Linked DNA regions of Homo sapiens. The protein of the gene in region 4 purifies or fractionates together with the protein of the main gene of each other region. This does not show direct contact. Each region holds a gene or a part of one and is shown on either strand. Other genes may lie near its edges.

Evidence for each region.
Region 1: the proteins of PDAP1 (region 4) and RAI1 purify together in Homo sapiens (affinity purification with mass spectrometry; one large-scale study listed by BioGRID and IntAct). This does not show direct contact.
Region 2: the proteins of PDAP1 (region 4) and PANK4 fractionate together in Homo sapiens (co-fractionation; one large-scale study listed by BioGRID). This does not show direct contact.
Region 3: the proteins of PDAP1 (region 4) and KLHL36 purify together in Homo sapiens (affinity purification with mass spectrometry; one large-scale study listed by BioGRID and IntAct). This does not show direct contact.
Region 5: the proteins of PDAP1 (region 4) and TDG fractionate together in Homo sapiens (co-fractionation; one large-scale study listed by BioGRID). This does not show direct contact.
Region 6: the proteins of PDAP1 (region 4) and HMGN3 fractionate together in Homo sapiens (co-fractionation; one large-scale study listed by BioGRID). This does not show direct contact.

Annotation. Positions count from the first base shown.
Region 1 is NC_000017.11:17,803,347-17,807,041, forward strand, and holds part of RAI1 (retinoic acid-induced protein 1), read left to right. Parts: intron 1-409; coding exon 410-503; intron 504-3,695. UniProt on the Homo sapiens protein: Transcriptional regulator of the circadian clock components: CLOCK, BMAL1, BMAL2, PER1/3, CRY1/2, NR1D1/2 and RORA/C. Positively regulates the transcriptional activity of CLOCK a core component of the circadian clock.
Region 2 is NC_000001.11:2,509,485-2,513,179, reverse strand, and holds part of PANK4 (4'-phosphopantetheine phosphatase), read left to right. Parts: intron 1-140; coding exon 141-292; intron 293-1,496; coding exon 1,497-1,552; intron 1,553-1,792; coding exon 1,793-1,842; intron 1,843-2,397; coding exon 2,398-2,502; intron 2,503-3,022; coding exon 3,023-3,123; intron 3,124-3,249; coding exon 3,250-3,318; intron 3,319-3,695. UniProt on the Homo sapiens protein: Phosphatase which shows a preference for 4'-phosphopantetheine and its oxidatively damaged forms (sulfonate or S-sulfonate), providing strong indirect evidence that the phosphatase activity pre-empts damage in the coenzyme A (CoA) pathway.
Region 3 is NC_000016.10:84,651,504-84,655,010, forward strand, and holds part of KLHL36 (kelch-like protein 36), read left to right. Parts: intron 1-3,507.
Region 4 is NC_000007.14:99,398,598-99,402,292, reverse strand, and holds part of PDAP1 (28 kDa heat- and acid-stable phosphoprotein), read left to right. Parts: intron 1-1,868; coding exon 1,869-1,990; intron 1,991-3,695. UniProt on the Homo sapiens protein: Enhances PDGFA-stimulated cell growth in fibroblasts, but inhibits the mitogenic effect of PDGFB.
Region 5 is NC_000012.12:103,968,872-103,972,371, reverse strand, and holds part of TDG (G/T mismatch-specific thymine DNA glycosylase), read right to left. Parts: intron 13-3,500; exon of another isoform or gene 1-12. UniProt on the Homo sapiens protein: DNA glycosylase that plays a key role in active DNA demethylation: specifically recognizes and binds 5-formylcytosine (5fC) and 5-carboxylcytosine (5caC) in the context of CpG sites and mediates their excision through base-excision repair (BER) to install an unmethylated cytosine.
Region 6 is NC_000006.12:79,207,113-79,210,807, reverse strand, and holds part of HMGN3 (high mobility group nucleosome-binding domain-containing protein 3), read left to right. Parts: intron 1-2,231; coding exon 2,232-2,261; intron 2,262-3,695. UniProt on the Homo sapiens protein: Binds to nucleosomes, regulating chromatin structure and consequently, chromatin-dependent processes such as transcription, DNA replication and DNA repair.

The DNA.
Region 1 (3,695 bases), on a different chromosome or scaffold from region 4:
ACAGGGGGCCAGCCAGCCTGTACAGGTTTTTTGTGTTTTTTTTGTTTGTTTGTTTGTTTGTTTTTTGAGGCAGGGTCTCACTCTTGCCCAGGCTGGAGTACAGGCAGTGGCGTCATCTCGGCTCACTGCAGCCTCAACCTCCCAGGCTGCAGCAATCCTCCCACCTCACCTTCCTGAGTAGCTGGGACTACAGGCACACACCACCAACCCTCACTATTTTTTGTAGAGACAGTTTCACCATGTTGCCCAGGCTGGTATCAAACTCCTGGACTCAGGCGATCCTCCCACCTTGGCCTCCCAGAGTGCTGGGATTACAGGCATGAGCCACTGCACCTGGCCTACCAGCCTGTAAAGCTTGAGGGCTGGGCTCCAACTGGAGACTCACCTGCCTTTCCTTTCTCTTCATCAGATGTGTTCCAGCTGCCAAGAAGCCGGGGCCACCATTGGGTGCTGCCACAAAGGATGCCTCCACACCTACCACTACCCGTGTGCCAGCGATGCAGGTACGAGCCCGCCCAGGAACAGGAGGGCATTGGAGCCCATCCAAGCAGTCCAGGGGGACCCTCCCTGGGCACAGCTCCCCAAACCCAGGCCCCATCTCACTCTTCAGTTTCCCTCCTCTCTTGCCCCAGCAATTCTTTTATCCTTCTGTCTGCCTAGACCTCTGCTGGGCAATGCCAGGGACATGGAAATGAGGCATTCCCCAGGCACCTGCTTGAGGAGTGCCCAGAGCAGTGAGGGAAGATAGAAGCATAAATTACAATGTGGAATGCTGTCTGCGGAGCCATCATTGCCAAGGGGCAGGGAGGATCTCAGGCCTCAGAGAGAAAGGGGTATTGGAGGTTGGGCCTTTGAAGGATAAATAGGAGTTCACTCAGCAGAGACAAGGGGAAAGGCACTACTACAACAGCAAAAACCAACTGAGTTGGGGGTGATGAGGTTCAAAACAGACTGAGACCCATGGAGCAATTGTGGAAGTTTTGAAGCAGGGTAATGGGGTATGGAGGTAGGCCCAGGCTCCCCGCATCCTCTCCCCGGTCCTTCCTCTCACTCATGTATTCATTTGTTCCGCAAGCATTTGTTGAGCCCCTACCATCACTGGGCACACAGAATGACCGTGCATGGGCTGGAGCCACCCAAGAGCCCTTACCTTTATCGACCAGGTGGGGAAACTGAGGCTCAGAGACATTCCTTATTTCATCCAGAGAAAGCAATTGCTTATGGTACAATATTAGTCATTGGGGACAACAATATTTTGGGAGATATGGGGCCAACTTTGGCCTGGATTCAAACCCTAGTGGTGGGGGGTGGGGTGGTTTTCGTTCTTGTTTGAGACAGAGTTTTGCTCTGTCACCCAAGCTAGAGTGCAGGGGTGCAGTCGTGGCTCACTGCAGCCTTAACCTCCTGGGCTCAATCATCCTCCCACCTCAGCCTCCTGAGCAGCTGAGACCACAGATGTGCGCAGCCATGCTGGCTCCTAGTAGTGTTTTTATTTTTATTTATTTATTTATTTATTTATTTATTTATTTATTTTTGAGACGGAGTCTCACTCTGTCACCAGGCTGGAGTGCAGTGGTGCGATCTTGGCTCACTGCAACCTCCGCCTCCCGAGTTCAAGCGATTCTCCTGCCTCAGCCTCTCAAGTAGCTGGGACTACAGGCGTGCACCACCACGCTCAGCTAATTTTTGTATTTTTTGTAGAGATGGGGTTTCACTGCTTTGGACAGGATGGTCTCCATCTCTTGACCTCGTGATCCGCCCGCCTCAGCTGCCTAAAGTGCTGGGATTACAGGCGTGAGCCACTGTGCCCGGCCCCTAGTAGCGTTTTTAATGTGTGGTCTTGAGCAAGTTGGTTGATACCTCTGCACACAGTTTCCCTACCTGTATGATGGAGATGATAATAGCCCCTTCTCTGCAGAGCTGCTGGGAGGAGAGTGAAATAATGAACACTACCCACACGGTGCTGCCTCAGTCCTATTTTGGGTCCAGCCTCTGTGACCTCTCCCCACACGGTGCTGCCTCAGTCCTATTTTGGGTCCAGCCTCTGTGACCTCTCCCCGTCACCCTCAATCCCTCCCAACTCTGGCCTGGAAAGAGGCGAAGTCATAACCCACCTCCCAGTGGACAGAGTCCAGGCCCCCCCAGGCTCCCGTCGCTCTCCTAGCAGCCCCAGCTACTGCCTCCCGTCCTCACCTGATGCCCTGCTGGCTTTGCCTGGACAGGGGACCACAGCCTGTACCCCACCTGCCTGGTGGGTCCCCAGCCAGTGTCAGCCCAGCCAAGCTGCCCCAGGGAGGACACAGAGGACTCTGAGTGCTGACAGTTGCTTGGCAGGGGCTGAGCTGCCGGGACCCAGCGGGGAAGGGGCTTGCTGGAGCAGGGACGTGGAGGATTCTCACTGGCTTCACGCTCCCACTCTGAGCAGTGTGAGCCAGAGTTTAACATGGACCCTGCCACTTGCCCAGGCATGTGGCCGCACTCCCCATAATAGCTGCCACGAGTCACATTCCTCCTTCCACAGTGATTAACTTAGCGCCCGCTCCACTCCCAGCCCTGCTACAGAACCATGTTGTTTCCAGCCATCTTCACAGATTGGCTGCCTCACCCACAGCACACAGCATGGCGTGGACAGTCCCAGGACTTAATGCCTTGGCTTTCTTGCTCCATGTCCTATGTTCTTTCTCCTACCCCAGCACTGCCCAGCCCCCCAAGGGGCTCACCCTTGAGTGGGACGGACAGCAAAACTGTGGTTCTTGGCCACAGTTAGGGAGACCAGACGGGAAGGAGAGAGTATGCACTGTGGAAGAGGTTCATCCTGTCTGAACAAGGGAGAAATCTAGGAAGACTTCCAGGAGGAGGTGACATTTAAGCCAGGCCTCAAAAGATCGGGGGAGCTTTGTAGCAACTGTTTAGTGGTGGGACTTGTATACTAGGCTTTGAGCAAGAGAACTTTTATTTCAGATAAAATCCTAGAAGGATTCCTCATATAACAGGGATCCCTGTAGCACCGTGAAGATTGAGGCAGGAAAGGGACTGGGAATGCTGCAAATGGAGACATACACCTCAGAGACTGAGTTGGCACAGAATCCATGGGACTTGATGATGAGGGAGAGGGAGGTGACAAGCCTGATGCCCAGCTTCCCCATGAAGGGGAGAAGTAGGGTGTGGACGTGCAAATGGAGTATTAGCTGCTGCTGCAGAGCTACTGGCCCTTCCAGGCCCAGCTTCATGTCTCCAGCACCAGCCCTTCATTAGTTCTCAAAAGGGCGTGAGTTGGCTGCAGGCTCTGCTGGGAGCAGGATGATCTAGGGTGGCCCCAGCTGTGCCAGCTTGTCTTTGCTCCATCAATCTCTCATCCTCCAGCAGGCTGGCCTGGGTGCGTCCTCATGGCAGCCCCAGGGCTTTGAGAGAGTGGAGGTCACAGGGCCACTCACAGCCTAGGTCCTGGACTTTACCACGTTCTGTTAGCCAAAGCAGGTCCCAAGTCCAGCACAGAGAAGTGCAGGCCACCTGGGGTGAGCTGCAGAGCCACACCACAAAGGACCTGGGTGCGGGGAGGGGACTGGGCTGCTCTGCCAGGCCATCTACACACACGGCAGTTCCCTTTGGCCACACGGCAGTAGAGGCAGCTGTGGACATACAAAGTGTAGATAGCTGGGCTCAGGATCGAGTCTCGCCCACCATCAGCAGGCGAG
Region 2 (3,695 bases), on a different chromosome or scaffold from region 4:
CTTGTGCCTGGTGGGGTCCCAGTTGGGCCTGAGTCTTCGATCCTGAGGGGCGTGGTATGGAACAGGCTGCGCCTGGCAGGTGTCCAGGGTGGGCTGAGGCCACGTCTTCACTCAGGCCTGGCATCTGGCACTCTCCACAGGTGAAGCAGCGGGAGAATGGCGTGGCGCTGAGGTGCTTCCCCGGGGTCGTGCGCTCCCTGGACGCGCTGGGCTGGGAGGAACGGCAGCTGGCGCTGGTGAAAGGCCTCCTGGCGGGGAATGTCTTCGACTGGGGGGCCAAAGCCGTGTCTGCGTAGGTGTCTGCGGGCTCGGAGCAGGCTCTGCAGCCTGTGGGTGCCTGTCCTGCCCCAGGCTTGCGGGCAAGGAGGTGGAGCGGGTCCCTTGGGGGTCACGTGGCGCTTGGTGGCTTGGTGGCTCAGGGCTTTGGGGCCCAGGGAGTGCACATGGCAGCAGCGCCAGGGGCTGGGCAGGGCGCAGCGCCCTTGTCTGTCCCCTCAGGTTCTGAGGAGGCCCCTTCCTTAAGCATGGGTGCCGCAGAGGCCTAAGGGTGTGGATTTGAAAATCGGGGCTGGCATTTTCTATTGTCAGAATCCAAATTCATGTTTCCTATGTGTGGTAGGAATTAAACATTTCTGATGTGATGATCAAAGGGTGCTTTGCAAAGCAGTCCCCTAGACTGGCCTGTAGGACACGCAGGTGTCTAGCACCTGGCGCCGTCTCCTGGGGCTCTGAATCTTGAAAATGAACCCCCCCACCATCATTTACCTTCACTCCCAAAGAAGCTGCTTCCAGTCTCTGGGCCTCCCCAGGCGGCCGCACCACCTCTCGTGGTCCCTGCTTTTTTTCATGTGGGGCTGGAGGGAAATGCCTGGGTTCTCAGCCCTCCCTGGGTCCCACTCGTGTCTCGAGACATAGATGAGAACGCCGCCTCCAACCATGGCTGCCCCTCTGGGACACAGGCCCCTCCCGCAGCCTGTCAGGAGCATTGGAGGAGGGTCCTGACCCATGGGATTGGCCTTGTGGCTGGGGGCTCCCCACACCGCCTGCATGGGTGCCAAGCACAGGGACCATACTGCGGCTGCCAGTCACCGAGAGGCTTCCCTGGCCCCGTGGCTCCGAGTCCACCTTGAGAAACAGCCTGTGCTCTCTCAGACCTTTGCTTGGTGGCCCCCTGAGCCTTCTGCGGATCGCAGCATGTTAAGAACGCTGTATCTGTTCTGCCTGGGAGTGATTTGGGGTCTTCACGTTGAGCAGCTGCCTCTGTCCCACCTGGGAGGGATTTGGGGTCTTAGCAGCTGCCTCTGTCCTGCCTGGGAGTGATTTGGGGTCTTCACGTTGAGCAGCTGCCCCTGTCCCACCTGGGAGGGATTTGGGATCTTTACATTGAGCAGCTGCCTCTGTCCCGCCTGGGAGGGATTTGGGGTCTTCACATTGAGCACTGTGGCTGAAGGTTTTTGTTCTGTTGTCTTAATTTTCTTTTCTCCTCCTCCATGCAGTGTCCTTGAATCCGACCCCTACTTTGGGTTTGAAGAAGCAAAGAGGAAGTTACAAGGTACGGATGGCCAAGTAACTTGGGGCCTTGCCTTGTGCTGGGGCCATGCCTGGACGTTCTCTGCAACAGCGAATGCAGTTGCGGTCGGGGTCCAGGCACCTCCCCTGCTCAAGGCTCTGTCAGCTGGGCTTCGGGGGCGGGGAGAACTTGCTTCCTGGAGAGACGAACACCTGAAGACGCGTCTCCCTGACCCCTGACCTGGAGCACCGGGCTAATCATGTGTCCCTCTCTCTGTCTCAGAAAGACCCTGGCTCGTGGATTCCTACAGCGAGTGGCTTCAGAGATTAAAGGTATGTGGAGGGGCCTCCCACCTCTGCTGCTGGGGACACAGCGGGGCCCGGGGGGGTGGTCACTGGAGGGAGGTGGGCATGGGCTGCCTCGGGTGGCCCTCCCCTCCTGTTAGAGTCTCACCATCCTGCGAGCCAAGGGTCTCAGCATCCCCTGCCCCACACTTGCCCTCCTGTCGTGACTGCTTCTTAGGTCACCTGCTCTAGGCACAAAGCCTTGCCAGAAGAGACAGGCACTGGCCCCTGCAGGCCAATCCGTCCCTGGCGCCTCTGGGGTCCTGAAGCCCCAGTCTCAGCCCCTGCAGGCTGGCCCGTCCCGGTGCCTCTGGGGTCCTGAAGTCCCGGTCTCAGCCCCTGCAGCCCAGCCCAGTCCCGGCACCTCTGGGGCCCTGAAGCCCCTGGTCTCGGCCCCTGCAGGACAGCCCATCCCTGGCATCTCTGGGGCCCTGAAGCCCCCAGTCTCGGCCCCTGCAGGGCAGCGTGACGGGCAGCAGGGGTGCGGACTGACTCGCTTGGATGCGCCTGTTCCCAACTGAACGTCCTGGTTTTGTCTTACAGGGGCCCCCTCATAAATGTGCCTTAATTTTCGCAGATAACAGTGGAATAGACATCATTTTGGGAGTCTTCCCCTTTGTCAGGGAGCTACTCCTTAGAGGGACAGAGGTGAGTGTTGAGGTGGTGGGTGGGGCCCTTCCCCTGGGCTTCTCTGCTCTCGGTGGGGTTGGCGCCGCTGTGGGCCTCTGGCGGTGGTCGGGGCTCCTCCGGACGCAGCAGGTAGGTGCAGGCAGCAGCACGGGGGAGGCGGCCCAGAGCCGTCATCTGCTGGGGTGGAGGCTCCGAGCCCCCTGGGCTCAGGCTGAGGGTCCATGTGCTGAAGCCCAGGGTTGACGCCAGGCTCCTGGAAGGGTGCTCACAGCAAGGAGGCTTTGGGGCTGTGACTTCACAGACAGGCAGGTCCCAGGGGCAGGCTCTAAACTCAGCTCTGCCCCTCGGCTCAGCTCCCTCCCAGGGGCCACAGAGTGGCAAGGTCAGGCGAGGTCCCTGCTCCTCAGCAGCAGGTGGCTGGCCAGGCCCGCTGGGCACAGCACCCTCACCCAGCCCAGCCACTCGAAGGCCGGGGTGCACGCAGGCTCCATGCTGGGCCAGCACAGGTTCCTAAAGAGCCTGGGCCCTCCTCCTGCAGGTCATCCTGGCGTGCAACTCAGGCCCCGCCCTGAACGACGTGACCCACAGCGAGTCCCTCATCGTGGCAGAGCGTATTGCGGGCATGGACCCTGTCGTGCAGTGAGTGTTGGCGGGCAGTGCTGGGGGGGCCTTGATGGGGAGGGGCACCAGCTGGGCAGAGTGGGCCATGGGGATTGTCACTGAACTGGGAGCTCCTGGGGGCACTGACCACCTTGTATCTGGCAGCTCTGCGCTCCAGGAAGAGAGGCTGCTGCTGGTGCAGACGGGCTCCAGCTCCCCGTGCCTCGACCTCAGGTAACCCCGCACCCTGCACCTGTTCTCTCCCTCCTGGGCTCTGTGCCCTCTGTGCCGTGCACCTGCACCCAGGTGCATGCGGGACACCGACCTCAGGACTGCCCCTGCGGCCTCTCCTGACCCCAGGCCCGGATTGATCTCAGGAGGGGACAGATATGCCATCCCCGAAGGTGGCCTGGGGAGGGTGAATGGATTCAGGGTCTGAGGTGGTTACACATGGGCTGGGTTTGGGGACTTGGGGCAAGAGGGGCCAATGTCCCTGTGGCCACTCAGCTGAGACCGAGGGCGACCTGGGCAGCTGCCCGGTGTCTGTCACCTCCGTGTCCCACATAGATGCCAGGCTCTGCTTCTGTGGTTCTGGAGGTCATTAGTCAATT
Region 3 (3,507 bases), on a different chromosome or scaffold from region 4:
TATACTTTCCACAAACTCCTGTCCCCACAGCTGCTGTTGGTAAAGAGTGGGGGAGCCATTGGTATGAGGTTCCTGGTAACCTGTTTCCCCGTTATAAATATTCGTAATGCCCTCTGTTCTTTAGAGGTATCCCTTTTGGAGATTAAATCTTATGGTTACCTCAGATCATGGATTCTCAATGAGTATGATATTGCCCTGAAGTGGGAGAAAATTGGTTCTCGGGAGGGTGGAAGGAATTTTACTCCTTTTATGCATAAGACACAATTATACATACAGTACATGAGCAGACATACAGTGCATCTGTGATGTTAAGATTTTGCTGGGGAGGCTATTAGGGAAAAAAATCTTAAAAGCCTTCTTGTGGGGCAATAATGAAAAAAGATACAGAAACACTTCTTTAGATGAAGGGAGCTGGCAGCAGCCTATAGAGTTGAGAAAAAGGGGGAAAGAGATTCTACAGATTCTAAAAGAAAAACTGGCTGTCATTTTCAAGAGAGGTTGGCTCTCTTGAGATATGACCTCCTGTTCTCACGTGAGTTCCCCAAGAAGGTTCCTGCCAAGCCCAGCTTTATCGATTGTGAAAACCCAGAGAGGTCTCGCCGCTCGCTCACAAGGGCTTTGTTTGGGAGCTTAGCTTGGGAGACACTGCTGCTTTCTAAGTTTGACAGCACTGGAAGTCTTTGTCCATTAATGCCAGGACCCTGAGTTTGTTTCTGTCTGAACTGAATCTCTTAGGACTAGGCTTCTGTATCACTGGATGATGTTTCTAACTTTTTTTTTTTTTCGAGACAGGGTCTTGCTCTGTCACTTAGGTTGGAGTACAGTGGTGCGATCATAGCTCACTGCAGCCTCTACCTCCTGGGCTCAAGTGAGCCTCCCACCTCAGCCTCCTGAGGAGCTGGGAATACAGGTGCATGCCACCATGCCCAGCTAATTTTTGTATTTTTAGTAGAGACGGGGTTTCACCATGTTGGCCAGGATGGTCTTGATCTCTTGACCTCGTGACCCGCCAGCCTTGGCCTCCCAAAGTGCTGGGATTACAGGCGCGAGCCACCATGACTGGCCTGTTTCTAACTTTTTATTTTTAAAAAGTGTACCCATTAATTTCTAGACATTAAACACACCTATGTTGCCAGCACCCAGATGGGTAAAAAACAGAATACTACCAAACCCTCCCAGTTGTTACACTCAAGATAGTCGCTGTCCCAACCCCACCGCTGTGGTTTGATCTGCTTTTGAACTTTGTCTAAACGGGATCCGAGGTCGGGTACTCTTGTGTGTGGTTTCTTTTGTGCAACATTGTGCCTCTGAGCCTCACCCGTGTTGCTGCATGTAGTTGGTAGTGGTAGGTTTTGCTTTCTCAGCATGTTGGTGTCTTCCCACTGTGTGGCCACAGTGTCTGTTCACCTGTCTGCCCTAAGATGTGTTGCTCAGCCAGGCACAGTGGCTCACGCCTGTAATCCCAGCACCCTGGGAGGCCGAGGCGGGAGGATCTCGTAAGCTCGGAGTTTGAGACCAGCTTGGACAACACGGCTAAACCTCATCTCTACAAAAGATACAAAAATTAGCCGAGCCTGGTGGCATACACCTGTAGTCCCAGCTCCTCAGGAGGCCGAGGTGGGAGGCTCACTTGAGCCCAGGAGGTAGAGGTTGCAGTGAGCTATGATCGCACCACTGTACTCCAACCTAAGTGACAGAGCGAGACCCTGTCTCAAAAAAAAAAAGTGTTGTTCCTTTTTGATGCTAAATTCTTTTTCCACGTCTAATACCTGGTACCTGCCGCCTCCTCCCAGGTGTAAGCCCCCGACAACCTGAGTTTCTCCCTCTACTTGGCCTTGCATCTGATTAAGGCACTGAAATAGGAAATAAAGAAATGAACAAGACTCATATCATCAGAGAATGCTGTGGATTGGAGCTTCTAAGTTACCTGAAATGCGGAAACTCTGTTACCAATGTCCCTTTATAATTGGGAAATAGGCCAGGCGCAGTGGCTCACGCCTGGAATCCTAGAACTTTGGGAGGCTGAGGTGGATGGATCACTTGAAGTCAGGAGTTCGAGGCCAACATGGTGAAACCCCGTCTCTACTGATATATGTATATATGCCGGGAGTGGTGGCACCTGAGGTCAGGAGTTTAAGACCAGCCTGGCCAAAATGGCAAAACCCTGTCTCTACTAAAAAGACAAAATTAGCTGGGCATGGTGGTACATGCCGGTAGTCCCAGCTACTCAGGAGGCTGAGGCAGGAGAATCGCCTGAACCTGGGAGGCGGAGGTTGCAGTGAGCCGAGATCGAGCCACTGCACTCCAGCCTGGGCAACAGAGGGAGGCTCTGTATCCAAAAAAAAAAAAAAAAAAAGGGAACTCGTGTGCCTGTGTTTTTGGAAAGTTGTCTATGCAGCTGTGCTAAAACACCAGAAGCAGATTGCAGCTGATTGTACCCGGGTACAGCATCACTCCAGCCCACTTAGAGCAGAAACCCAGTTTTGGAAACAACACTGCTCTTGCCCCCTGCCCCAGCTCACTGGAGCTGGTGTCTCCCCTCGGCAGCCGTTCACTGGGGCTTTCCCCAGTCCTGCCCCCTGGGCTCTTTCCCTTTTGACACTGCAGTCTGGGGTTGTGTGTATCTCCGTCTAAGCATGGTAGGGCCAGCACCCTCACCAGCGTGGAGACAGCCAGGGTCCCCGGGTGGCAGATAGCCGCCTCATGCCCTCATATGCGTCTCTCAGGCCGCTAAGCCTGTACTATGACTTGATCACCGCCACTGTAGTACTTTTTAATTTCCTTCCTTCAGCTCACACCCAAGAGGGGCCTCCAGTCAATGTCTGTAGAAGCACTGACCATTCCTGCATAATTAGAAGCTGAGGCCTAGCACGGTGGCTTATACCTGTAATCCCAGCACATTGGGAGGCTGAGGCAGGAGGATCGTTTGAACTCAGGAGCTGAAGACCAGCCTGGGCAATGTAGTGAGACCCCATTTCTACAAAAAATAAAAGTAAAAAATAGCTGGATATGGTGGCACACACCTGTAGTCCCAGCTGCCAAGGAAGCTGAAGTGGAGGGATTGCTTGAGACTAGTTTTGTTTTGTTTTGTTTTGTTTTGTTTTGTTTTGTTTTGTTTTGTTTTGTTTTGTTTTTGAGATGGCGTTTTGTTCGTGTTGCCCAGGCTGGAGTGCAGTGGCTCACTGCAACCTCCGCCTCCGGAGTGCAAGTGATTCTCCTGCGTCAGCCTCCTGAGTAGCTAGGATGACAGGCGCCCGCCACCACAACCAGCTAATTTTGTATTTTTACTAGAGACGGGGTTTCACCATGTTGGTCAGGCTGGTCTCGAACTCCTGACCTCAGGTGACCTGCCCACCTCGGCCTCCCAAAGTACTGGGATTCCAGGCATGAGCCACCACGCCCGGCTGAGCCTAGGAGTTTCAGGCCGCAGTGATCTCTGATCTACTGTTGCATGCCAGCCTGGGAAACAGAGCAAGACCCTGTTTCTAAAAATGAGAAAAAATTTAA
Region 4 (3,695 bases):
CTGGGGGAGGCCTTGAAGGGATTGAGAGACATGACCAGATATGCTTTTTTTTTTTTTTTTTTTTGGGAGATGGAGTCTCTCTGTCGCCCAGGCTGGAGTGCAGTGGTGCGATCTCGGCTCACTGCAAGCTCCGCCTCCCGGGTTCAGGCCATTCTTCTGCCTCAGCCTTCCGAATAGCTGGGACTACCGTAGAGGTAGCGTTTCACCATGTCAGCCAGGATGGTCTCAATCTCCTGACCTCGTGATCTGCCTGCCTTGGCCTCTCAAAGGGCTGGGATTACAGGCGTGAGCCACTGCGCCCAGCCTCCAGATATGCTTTTAAAAGATTATTTTACTTTGGGAAGCCAAGGTGGGTGGATCACAAGGTCAGGAGATCGAGACCATCCTGGCTAACACAGTGAAACCCCGTCTCTACTAAAAATACAAAAATTAGCCAGGTGTGGTGGCAGGCGCCTGTAGTCCCAGCTACTTGGGAGGCTGAGGCAGGAGAATGGCGTGAACCCGGGAGGCGGAGTGCAGTGAGCCAAGACTATGCCACTGCACTCCAGCCTGGGCGACAGAGTGAGACTCCGTCTCAAAAAAAAAAAAAAAAGATTATTTTAGCTTCTTCATGGAGAGTGAATGATAGGATGTTGAGAGTAAGAGCAGTGTTCAGATCAGAAATCCTGGGCCGGGTGTGGTGGCTCACACCTGTAATCCCAGCACTTTGGGAGGCCAAGGCGGGCGGATCACCTGAGGTCGAGATTTCGAGACCAGCCTGACCAACATGGAGAAAACCTGTCTCTACTAAAAATACAAAATTAGTCGGGGGTGGTGGTTCATGCCTGTAATCCCAAATACTCAGGCTGAGGCAGGAGAATTGCTTGAACCCAGGAGACCGAGGTTGTGGTGAGCCGAGATTGTGCCATTGCCCTCCAGCCTGGGCAAGAAGAGGGAAACTCTGTCTCAAAAGAAAAAAAATCGTGGCTTGCCCTAGGATGGTGACAATGGCAGTGGAGAAGAGTGGACAAATTTAAGCTGTATTTGGGGGTTGCTGAAGGAACGACGAATCAAGGATATGCTTAGGATTGCAGGGAGGGTCCGGTTGGGTAAAGGATGAATCTCGAGTTCTGTCTTGGACATGTTAAGTTTACAGTGCCAGGCATCTGAGTGGAGGTGTAAGTGTGCAGCTGGACTGGAAGTGTGTGGAGGGAGCTCTGTGGAGTGGAAGCTGTCTCCCTGCCCCCTTAAGGAGAATTGATGGAATTGACAGGGCCTGAAACTTTGACCAAACCTGCTGCATTGAGAACACACCCCCTTCTTCTGGAACTTCTGCAGGGGAGGTGGAAGGTGCAGATTCCAGGTTTTTGGGCCAGCGTCCCAAACCTGTAGAGTGTGTGATCCAGTAGCTTATTCTTGGGTTACAAGTCCAGTCCATCAGCTAAGGTGGGTGGGAATTGGAATTAGTCATGACAGCACACACTTGGCCCACCCTGCCCTGGGGATTCCAGCCCAGCGCTTTTTGCAAGAAGAATCAGGCATGGGATTCCATGGAAAACTGCTTTTGGAAGCCGAGCTTGAAGTAGGGGAGTAGTGCTGTGTGAGTGCTTGCAAGTCGGGGTAGGGCGCACCTCTCATCTACCACCTACTTCCTGGTTGACTTGGGCAAGTTATTCGACCCCGAGCAGCCGTTCTGTGGGCTCTTCCCAGGCTGATGAAGATGCTCCAGAGAGCTATACCCACTGTGAGACTTGGGCTGAGCACTACGTGGGCTGGGGTGGAGCAGGAGTTTGTCCTCATCCAGATGGGCTGTTGAGAGATGGCAGGAGTGGCCCTCAGGGGCTCCACAGGACCTGAACTCCAACAACCAGCTTCTTGCCCTGTTCTAGCAAAAGCGCAAAGGCGTTGAAGGGCTCATCGACATCGAGAACCCCAACCGGGTGGCACAGACAACCAAAAAGGTCACACAACTGGATCTGGACGGGCCAAAGGAGCTTTCGAGGAGAGAACGGTAACATCACTGGCTGGGCCTTGTGTCACGGGGAATACAGGCCAGCAGTTGGCCTGTGGGATGCTAAGGTCCCCAGCTGGCTGGGAGCTGTGGCTGTTTATTTCTGTCTCATTCCCCAATGGCCCTCCAGTAGCCTTTAAAAAGCCACACAGAATTTGTTTTCACCAATTGATACATGATATCAGGGGAAATAGGACAACAGGCTCAGACCTGAGCATAACACTTGAGGTAATGGTGCAGGATACAGAGGGTTGCCCTCCATTCCCCTCTTCCAGAGCACCACACCCTGGGGAGACTTCCCTTACCCCACTGATCTGACCATTCCTGACCTGCATCCATCTGTAATGTCGTGGCCATGGGGACTGGAAGGGGGCTGCGAGCCTGTGCCGGCCAGAAGGCAGTCCAGCCCAGCGCAGCTCAGCCAGCTGTCCCAGGCCTCTGCAAGTCCTGTGTGAAAATGAAGCTGTAAATATCTTCCTCAAGAGTCGTATGAGGATCAAGATCATGTACTGAAGTGCCTGGCACAGGATCAGTCCTTGACTGGTGCCCTGACTTTTGGCAGCCACCAGGTGACCTCAAGGGCCTTACAAGAGGTTGAAGCCTGCTAGTTTCTCTCCTGACTGGGAATTTAGGATAATGGCTGAGGGGTGTGTCTGTGAAAGCCTCGTGGGGAAGGCCATGAGCTTGGGTGTGATTGCAGCTGCTAAGGACCCTTCTGTCCCCCTTCAGTAGCTTCCTCTTGGCATTGACTTCAAAAACCCAGCAACCTGGGTGTTCTGCCACTGTGGTATTCTGCCATTGGCAGCTGTGCAGCCTTCGATAAGGCTGTGCCTTTCTGGGCATCAGTGTCCTCTCCAGTAAAAGGGATCCTGTTGCTCCCTCCTTCTGTCCTTTGGGGTTGCAGAGACACCCTGCCTGGCATTTTGCTTTCACTGAAGGGCCCTGCAGAGTCTTTGGGCTGCCTTAGTCATCATTCCTGAGGCTCAGCTTAGAGGCTTCTGAGTGTGGCACATCCCTCCTGAGCTAGGATCTGCGGTTCGCCAGGTATTATCTCCTCAGCTCTGTAGTGAGGCATCTGCTCTTCCCACTCGGGAGTCCCTCTCCCTCCCCTCTAGCTAGCTCCCATGCCTGGTTTCTCATTACTCCCCAGTTCTGTGTACCTTGAAGGCCTCTGGGAGGCCGAGTCTCTCTCCCAGCCTCCTGCCAGGCAGGGCCCTCCCCTCCTCCAGCACTTGGCTCTTCCAGGAACCCAGTGCAAATAGGCCCTCCGATCTCATCCTGAAGGGCATCCACTCCAGTTCAGAATCTCAAGCTTGGGAAGATCCTCAAAAGGAAGCTAATGACCCTCACCACTGACTCTACTTAGGGGGTTCATTCCTGACACTTTGTCCCATGGGAGCCCAGCAATTATTCCCATCTCCCTACTGATGGGGGCTGTCCCCTTGGGGGGCAGCACCGTGCACATCTGAGCTGCTCTAAGAATGGGCCATGTGGTGTTGACCTGAGACTGGGTGTGTCTGTTTCCCACTGTGGTCCTCATCCTATGCCCTGTGGCTGCTTCCTCCACTTCTTCATTCCTTTTTTTGTTTGTATTTTTTAGAGATAGGATTTCACTCTGTCACCCAGGCTGGAGTGCAGTGGTGCAATTGTAGCTCACTGCAGCCTTGAACTTCTGGGCTCAAGCAATCCGCCTGCCTCAGCCTCC
Region 5 (3,500 bases), on a different chromosome or scaffold from region 4:
GCCGAGGGGGTTGGATCACGAGGTTAGGAGTTCGAGACCGGCCTGGCCAACATGGTGAAACCCCATCTCTACTAAAAATACAAAACTTAGTCAGGCGTCGTGGCATGCGCCTGTAATCCTAAATACAGGGAAGGCTGAGGCAGGAGAATTGCTTGAACTAGGGAGGCGGAGGCTGCAGTAAGCCAAGATCGTACCACTGTACTCCAGCCTGGGCGACAGAGCAAGACTCTGTCTAAAAAAAAAAGGGGGGTTCTGGATAATTTTATCTTCTATTATAATAACAACTAAATGTATAAGCAGCATAAACCTGTTTCAACCTCAGTGTGAGGATATTTCTTAAATACATTTGTGTATGCATAATGATCGTTGCTACTTTATAATCCAGAACTCTGCAATGTTTCTGAGCAATAACTCTATGAGAAGGACAGTAACAAAGAGCATTTAGTCATTTATCCTCTCGGGGTATCCATTCCCTCACCATGAAAATGAGGAATTAGATTCAGTGATTTCTACATATGTGGACAATGTATAGGAAATAGGACTAGATCTGTCTAGACTCAAAACAGACCCCAAAGACTTTCTACTTTGTATAACTTCCTGATGTTAAACTTACAAGCACGATTGATTTTATTTCTCTTCGTTCACTTTTCTTCCCCCATCATTTATCTTAGTCTCAAATATTCTTCACTACCTCTCACTCTCCCTCATTTTCCTGTTTACCCCTTTTTCTCTGCTAGCCTCCATTTGCACTTACCTTCTGTTGAACTGCAGCGCTCATAGATTGTTTTTCTGTTGTTTTTTGTTTGTTTGGTTTTTGAGACAGAGTCTCGCTCTGTCACCCAGGCTGGAGTGCAATGGCATGATCTCGGCTCACTGCAACCTCTGCCTCCTGGGTTCAAGTGATTCTCCTGCCTCAGCCTCCTGAGTAGCTGGGATTACAGGCACCTACACCGGGCTAATTTTTGTATTTTTAGTAGAGACAGGGTTTCACCATGTTGGTCAGGCTGGTGTCAAACTCCTGACCTCACGATCTGCCCGCCTTAGCTTCCCCAAAGTGCTGGGATTACAGGTGTGAGCCACTGTGTCCGGCTAGATTGTTTTCTTATAGCTGCCTGGAACTGATGAATTGTGTACAGTCATCCTTTAGTTACTAATCAATCTTTCTAAAAATGGACTGTGGTATGTACCTAGTTTTGCATACATGGGGGACTGGTTGTAGAACCCCTCACAGACACCAATATCTAAGGATGCTCAAGTCGCTTGATATAAAATGGCATAGTATTTGTATATAACCTATGCAGATCCTCCCATATACTTTAGATAATCTTTACATTATTTATAATACCTAATACAATGTAAATGCTATGTAAGTAGCTGTCATCCTGCATTCTTTTTATCTGTATCATTTTTTAATGTTGTTATTTGTCTTTTTTTTTCCCAAATAATTTCAATCCACAGTTGGTTGAATTCTTAGATGCAGAATCCATAGATATGGAAGGTCGACTATATTTTCTGATAGTCTTTCTCAAAACACACATACACACACTCCACGCATAGAGTTCATTAAGAAGTCCAGTTAATTCAGATTTGCTATTTTTTTATTTTTTTAATTATTTTTTTTTTAAGAGATGGGGTCTCACTCTGTCACCCATGCTGGAGTGCAGTGGCATGATCATAGTTGGCTGCAGCCTCCAACTCCTGGGCTCAAGTGATCCTCCTGCCTCAGCCTCCTGAGTAGCTAGGACTACAGGCACACACCACCATGCCTAGCTAGATTTGCTGTATTTCAAAAAACTAAATTTTTAAGGTTTTCTCTAAAATTAATGACTCCAACTTCTTTTATCTTCAATTATTTTACACTATTTTAGGGATTTAAGTTGCTTTTTTCTTTTTTAAGAGACAGGGTCTGGCTGCCACCCAGGCTGGAGTGCAGTGGTGCTATCATAGCTCACAGTAACCACACACACCTGGGCTCAGACAATCCTCTCACCTCAGTCTCCTGAGCAGCTGGGACTACAGGTACATGCATCTATGCCTGGCTAAATTTTAAATTTTTTGTAGAGATGGGGCTTCACTATGTTGCCCAGGCTAGTCTTGAACTTCTGGTCTCAAGTGATCCTCCCACCTTGGCCTCCCAAAGTGCTGGGATTACAGGTGTGAGCCACTGCACCCAGCCTAAGTTGCTATTTTCTAAATACATTTTATTATCTTCACTTAAAAAAAGCATATACCATACTGAATACTTACAAAATAATGAACAAGGCTAAATAATCCAAATGCTCAACTAAAGGGGTCTGGTTATGTAAATTATGATGCGATAGCACCATAACTATTATTCCATTTGGTATTGCTAGATGGAGGTCTGTGTATTCACCATATGTACAGTCTACTAGAAACTGTAAATATAAAGATTTAGAATAAGCCAGTCCTCATACAGTATTCCTCAAATAGTATAATTCCTCATGTAGTATGATTTCAAATTTCTTCATTTTTTGGTGCTCGGAATCAAACAAAACTCCAGATAAAGCCTCATCAGCCCGAAAATGAGCAGGGCTACCAACTTGCTCATTTTGGAGACAAACTGCAGAACCCATGACACTAGCTATACTGGCACCCACATTATACTGTTGATTCACACTGAGTTTCCCATCAACGAACACTGTCCTTGTATCACTTCTCCCTCATTCCACACTTTATCACTGATTTTTCTGCAGCTGAGTATAGGATTGTGCCTCTTCTTTGTAAAAGATGATTCACCATTCCAGTCAGTCAGGATTTATCTGGACTCTGATTAAATCAATCAGTTAATTCCACAAATTCCTCCCAGGCTTGGGTCACTCACAAATTTTATCACCATGCCATCAGCACCCTGACGTTAAGGTACTGAAAGGAACAAAGTTAGGGATAGAGATACATGGCATATAAGTACAGACCTCTCTTCAGTCTGCCTGATTCTTTCAGTAGTAAGTCAGGTTTTTATTTCACCTAACTGGATTGCCATCAGTCCATCTCCATCTTGCTCACTAAGAGAGGCAGTAAAGCACATTTGCTAGCTAGAGAAGCAGACTTTGAAGCTAGGTCATCTGGATTCAAATTTCAGCTCTCCCATTTACTAGCTCTGTGGGCAAGTTCCTTAATCTCTTTATGCCCATGCTTCCACATCTGTAAAATGGGAATAGTACCTAATAATTGGTTAGGAGCATTAAGCTAGTTGGCCTATGTAAAACATCCAAAACAGTACCTGGTATATAATAAATTTGCTATAATAATGACTACTGTAGGTACCTCCTGCCAGCATCCTTCTGATGCTGCCTGTCTAGTATAGGTCTTGCTTTCTTTCTGAACTGATACTGTAGTGTAGTGGTCACTAGTTATGCCACCATGCCCAGCTAATTTTGTATTTTTAGTAGAGACGGGGTTTCACCATATTGGCCAGGCTGGTCTTGAACTCCTGACTTCAGGTGATCCACTTGCCTTGGCCTCCCAAAGTGCTGGGATTA
Region 6 (3,695 bases), on a different chromosome or scaffold from region 4:
TGTCGCAGCTGGGGAACTTTTCACATGATTTTGCCTCACTTCATGGAGATTTTATTCAAGACAACTAGATGGCAGATAGGGAGGCAGTTTTGAGTAATGGCTAACATGTTTGGACCCTTTTCAGGCCCCAAACTAAAGAGTAACTGAGTAGTGGCTCTAGGACTTCTTCCCCTCCCTACAAGTTCACAGTTGCTGTATGTTTCTGGTGCTTACCCCTTCTGTTCATCTCAACACTTATTGAGGGCCCCTGCTACATATTGGAGCCATAGAAATATAAGAGAAGGTGGTCCTGTGCAAGGAGGTATGGAGACGTGTCAGATGAGGTGAACGTGAGGCAAGACCAGCATGGTGCACATGAGTTGACATCAAGTGGAGAGAGAGTCAGATAAGGCTCTTTCACCTCTCTTTAGCATGGAGACTGTCACTTTCATCTTGGAAGGTATTGTTCTGCCTGCTGTAGTTTATGAGACATGGATAGTCCTTGAGGCCACACTGAAGCTTCAAAGCTGAGCTCTGTTGGGTAATTGGAAGGTGCTCTTTGCTCCTCTATGCTCAGAAAGTACATTAAAAAAACACAAGATACCTCTTATTGCCCGGTTTACTTGAAAATGTTGCCTTCAGTATACTTAATACGGTTAACCATGCTGGGAAAGGTATTGCAGGATTTGGATTCTGGTTCCCAGGGACTTATGGGTGCACTGTCAAGAATGCACCCTTGATAACCATAGCAGGCACTATGGTTCCTATGGAGAATCTGACACACACTCCTCCTGTACTAATTCACAGGGCTATGTGCTGAGTTGTACAAGCTTTTACTCTGTGCAGTGAGTGTATCCCACCCAATCACTTAACCTGCACAGCCTTTCATTCTCAGCACATTCTCCTAGCTGGCCTTAAGTCCAGCTCTGATCTTTCTTCGAGACTCCAGGGTTAAAAGTATTCATGGAGGCTCTGGCCCTTCGTTTCCTTCTGTAGTTTAAAGAAAGATGAGTTTAGCTTCTCTGGCTATTTTCAGCAAGAAAGTTCTTAGATGTGGAGATGGCAAGAAATATTTCTTCCAGTTTGGCCTGACTGGCTGACCTAGACTGACCTTAGCCCCACTTCAAGAATTCCATGATTCCTCATAATTATGGCATGGATTCCTACTGACCATTTTTGCTGTCCCCCTTAGGAAGAATTATTTGAAACATTTAAGCTATTGTAATGAGGCAAAGTCTGCATAAGGCAGTGAGAATTAGGGAAAGGCTTGGATTCATTTATTCAGCAAATACTGAGTTTGTACTATATGTTGGCCAGTACCCTACTGTACTGGAGATGGAGCAGTGAATAAAACAGACAAAAAGTATGGAGTATTTATTTCTAGGGCACTTTTTTTAAAAAGGCAGTTATGCTTTTAGAATGTGAAATCCCTTGGGGAGCCACCGTAGGTTGGATGGTAAGTAGAATATCAATTTTGTGTGTTATTGCTGAAATGCCTAGGACAGTTCTGTTAATTTAGATTTTCTTTTCAGGGTCATTTGCTGTTAACTTGTAATATCCTTGAAGAAAAAAAGATTTCCCCAAAATATCAATTTCTACACAGTTTCTCTGTAAATTTTCTAAACTTTGAAATTAAAAGAAAAAGTAATGCACTTTTAATTCTGGTTAAATCCTTTGAACATATACTACTAGATAAATGTGTTTGTTTTGTTATAGGTAAAAAGAAGCCTTTCTTGTTAACTGCCAAGATTTGTAGTCATTTTCATTTCTAACATAGCAGCAAGATGGGGAACTCCTGCTATTTTGGTTTCTACACAATTGCATAAGTCTCTTCTTGTATTAACTTAAAAGCTTTAGTTCCATTTTTAAGGAGCTGGAGTCAGACTGAAGACTAGCTCTTAAATAGCACCTCAATGTTCTTGCTGTTGATTTTGTCATAAAAGTAGAGGTTTTAATTTGGGATAAAGCCTAAGTTGATCTTCATTTCCCTTACTTATTCACCACACCCTTAGTTGGGAGAAGCCGTTTATTTGAACAGTATACCTACCCCTTTTTAGAAACACTTCCTCTTGAGTGTCATCGTGCCCAGGGGACTTGGGATATGTTTCACTGTGCTTACCTGGAGAAGGTGATGGGAATCATACATTATAGTCATTCAACAAAGTAAGGTATATTAAGAATAGATTTTTAAAAATCAACTTCGTTTTATATAATCACCAAAAAATATGTATATTTTCCCATTCCCTTTGTAGCCCACAAGACGGTCTGCCAGATTGTCAGCGGTAAGTACCTTAGAACCACTTCAGTGTTAGTTCTTATGAGTACATGTTCCCTTTGTCCAAAGTGAAGCAGCAAAAGGAAGATTAACATGGTTTCCCATGAGCTTATTTTCTTTTTGAAAATTACCTAGGGTCCTCATGTCTAGCAAATTTGACCAGTGTTGCCAAGCAATTCACTTGATCAAATGTGTCAGAAAAACAGTGGCCAGCCCCATAACGAAGAATATAAAGCAGGATGTTGTTTGACATTGCTAGATCTCTGAAACAAAAGTAGTATATTAGGCAAAGTTCCAGTCTTCAGATTGTACCTATGATGTGCTGAAGTGGACAGAATTCTGATTCTCTGTCCACAACTCATACTTTAGAATGTATGTATGAGAATGTTCTGAAAGTTGTCTGAGTCCATATACTGTAGCCTCATTTCAGACCTAAAGAATCTTTGTAATAGTAATAATTCTACTTTGCTATTTGGTGTCTCCTTCTGTGGGCCAGGAGATTCTTGTGGGGTTAGGATACAAGCTGAGATGGGCAGATGTGGCTGAGCCTCTGAGGTGGACATCCTTCAGCTCTTCCTCACCAACCTGTGCTCCTTACTGGTTCTTATGCTCTTCTCTTTTGCTGCTCTCCTGAGAGATTAGCTGGACTCTAGTGGAGGATTTTGGTTAAAATTCCTGCAGCCCAGACTTCCCACTGAGAAGGTAGAGGGAAAGGCATTGGCATTTTGGCTGACACTATATTAGTATATCCCCATACTAGCTATTACAGAAGCTTCATGCTACTTTGGTCTTCAGGAAAGCATGGATTTCATTCTCAACCCAAATCTGTGCCTGATACAATATAAGGAATCAAAGCAAAAATGGGTATTAGGACCACTCACAAGTTCAGAAATACAGCTGTTTGGATCAGGCAAGCCAGTGTTTCACGTGAGTCTCGTAAGGAAGTATATTAGTCTGTTTTCACACTCACTGCTGATAAAGACATACTCAAGACTGGGCATTTTACAAAAGAAGGAGGTTTAATTGGACTTATAGTTCCATGTGGCTGGGGAAGCCTCACAATCATGGTGGAAGACGAGGAGCAAGTCACATCTTATGTGGATGGCAGCAGGCAGAGAGAGAGCTTCTGCAGGGAAACTCCCATTTTTAAAACCATCAGATCTCACCAGACTCATTCACTTTCACAAGAACAGCACAGGAAAGACCCGCCCCATAATTCAATCACATCCCACCAGGTTCCTCCCATGACACATGGGAACTGTGGGAGTTATAATTCAAGATGACATTTGGGTGGGGACATAGCCAAACCATATCATTCTGCCCCCAGCCCCGCCCAAATCTCATGTCCTCACATTTCAAAACCAATCATGCCTTCCCAACAGTCCCCCAAATCTTAATTCATTTCAGCATTAACTCAAAAGTCCAAAGTCTCATCTGAGAT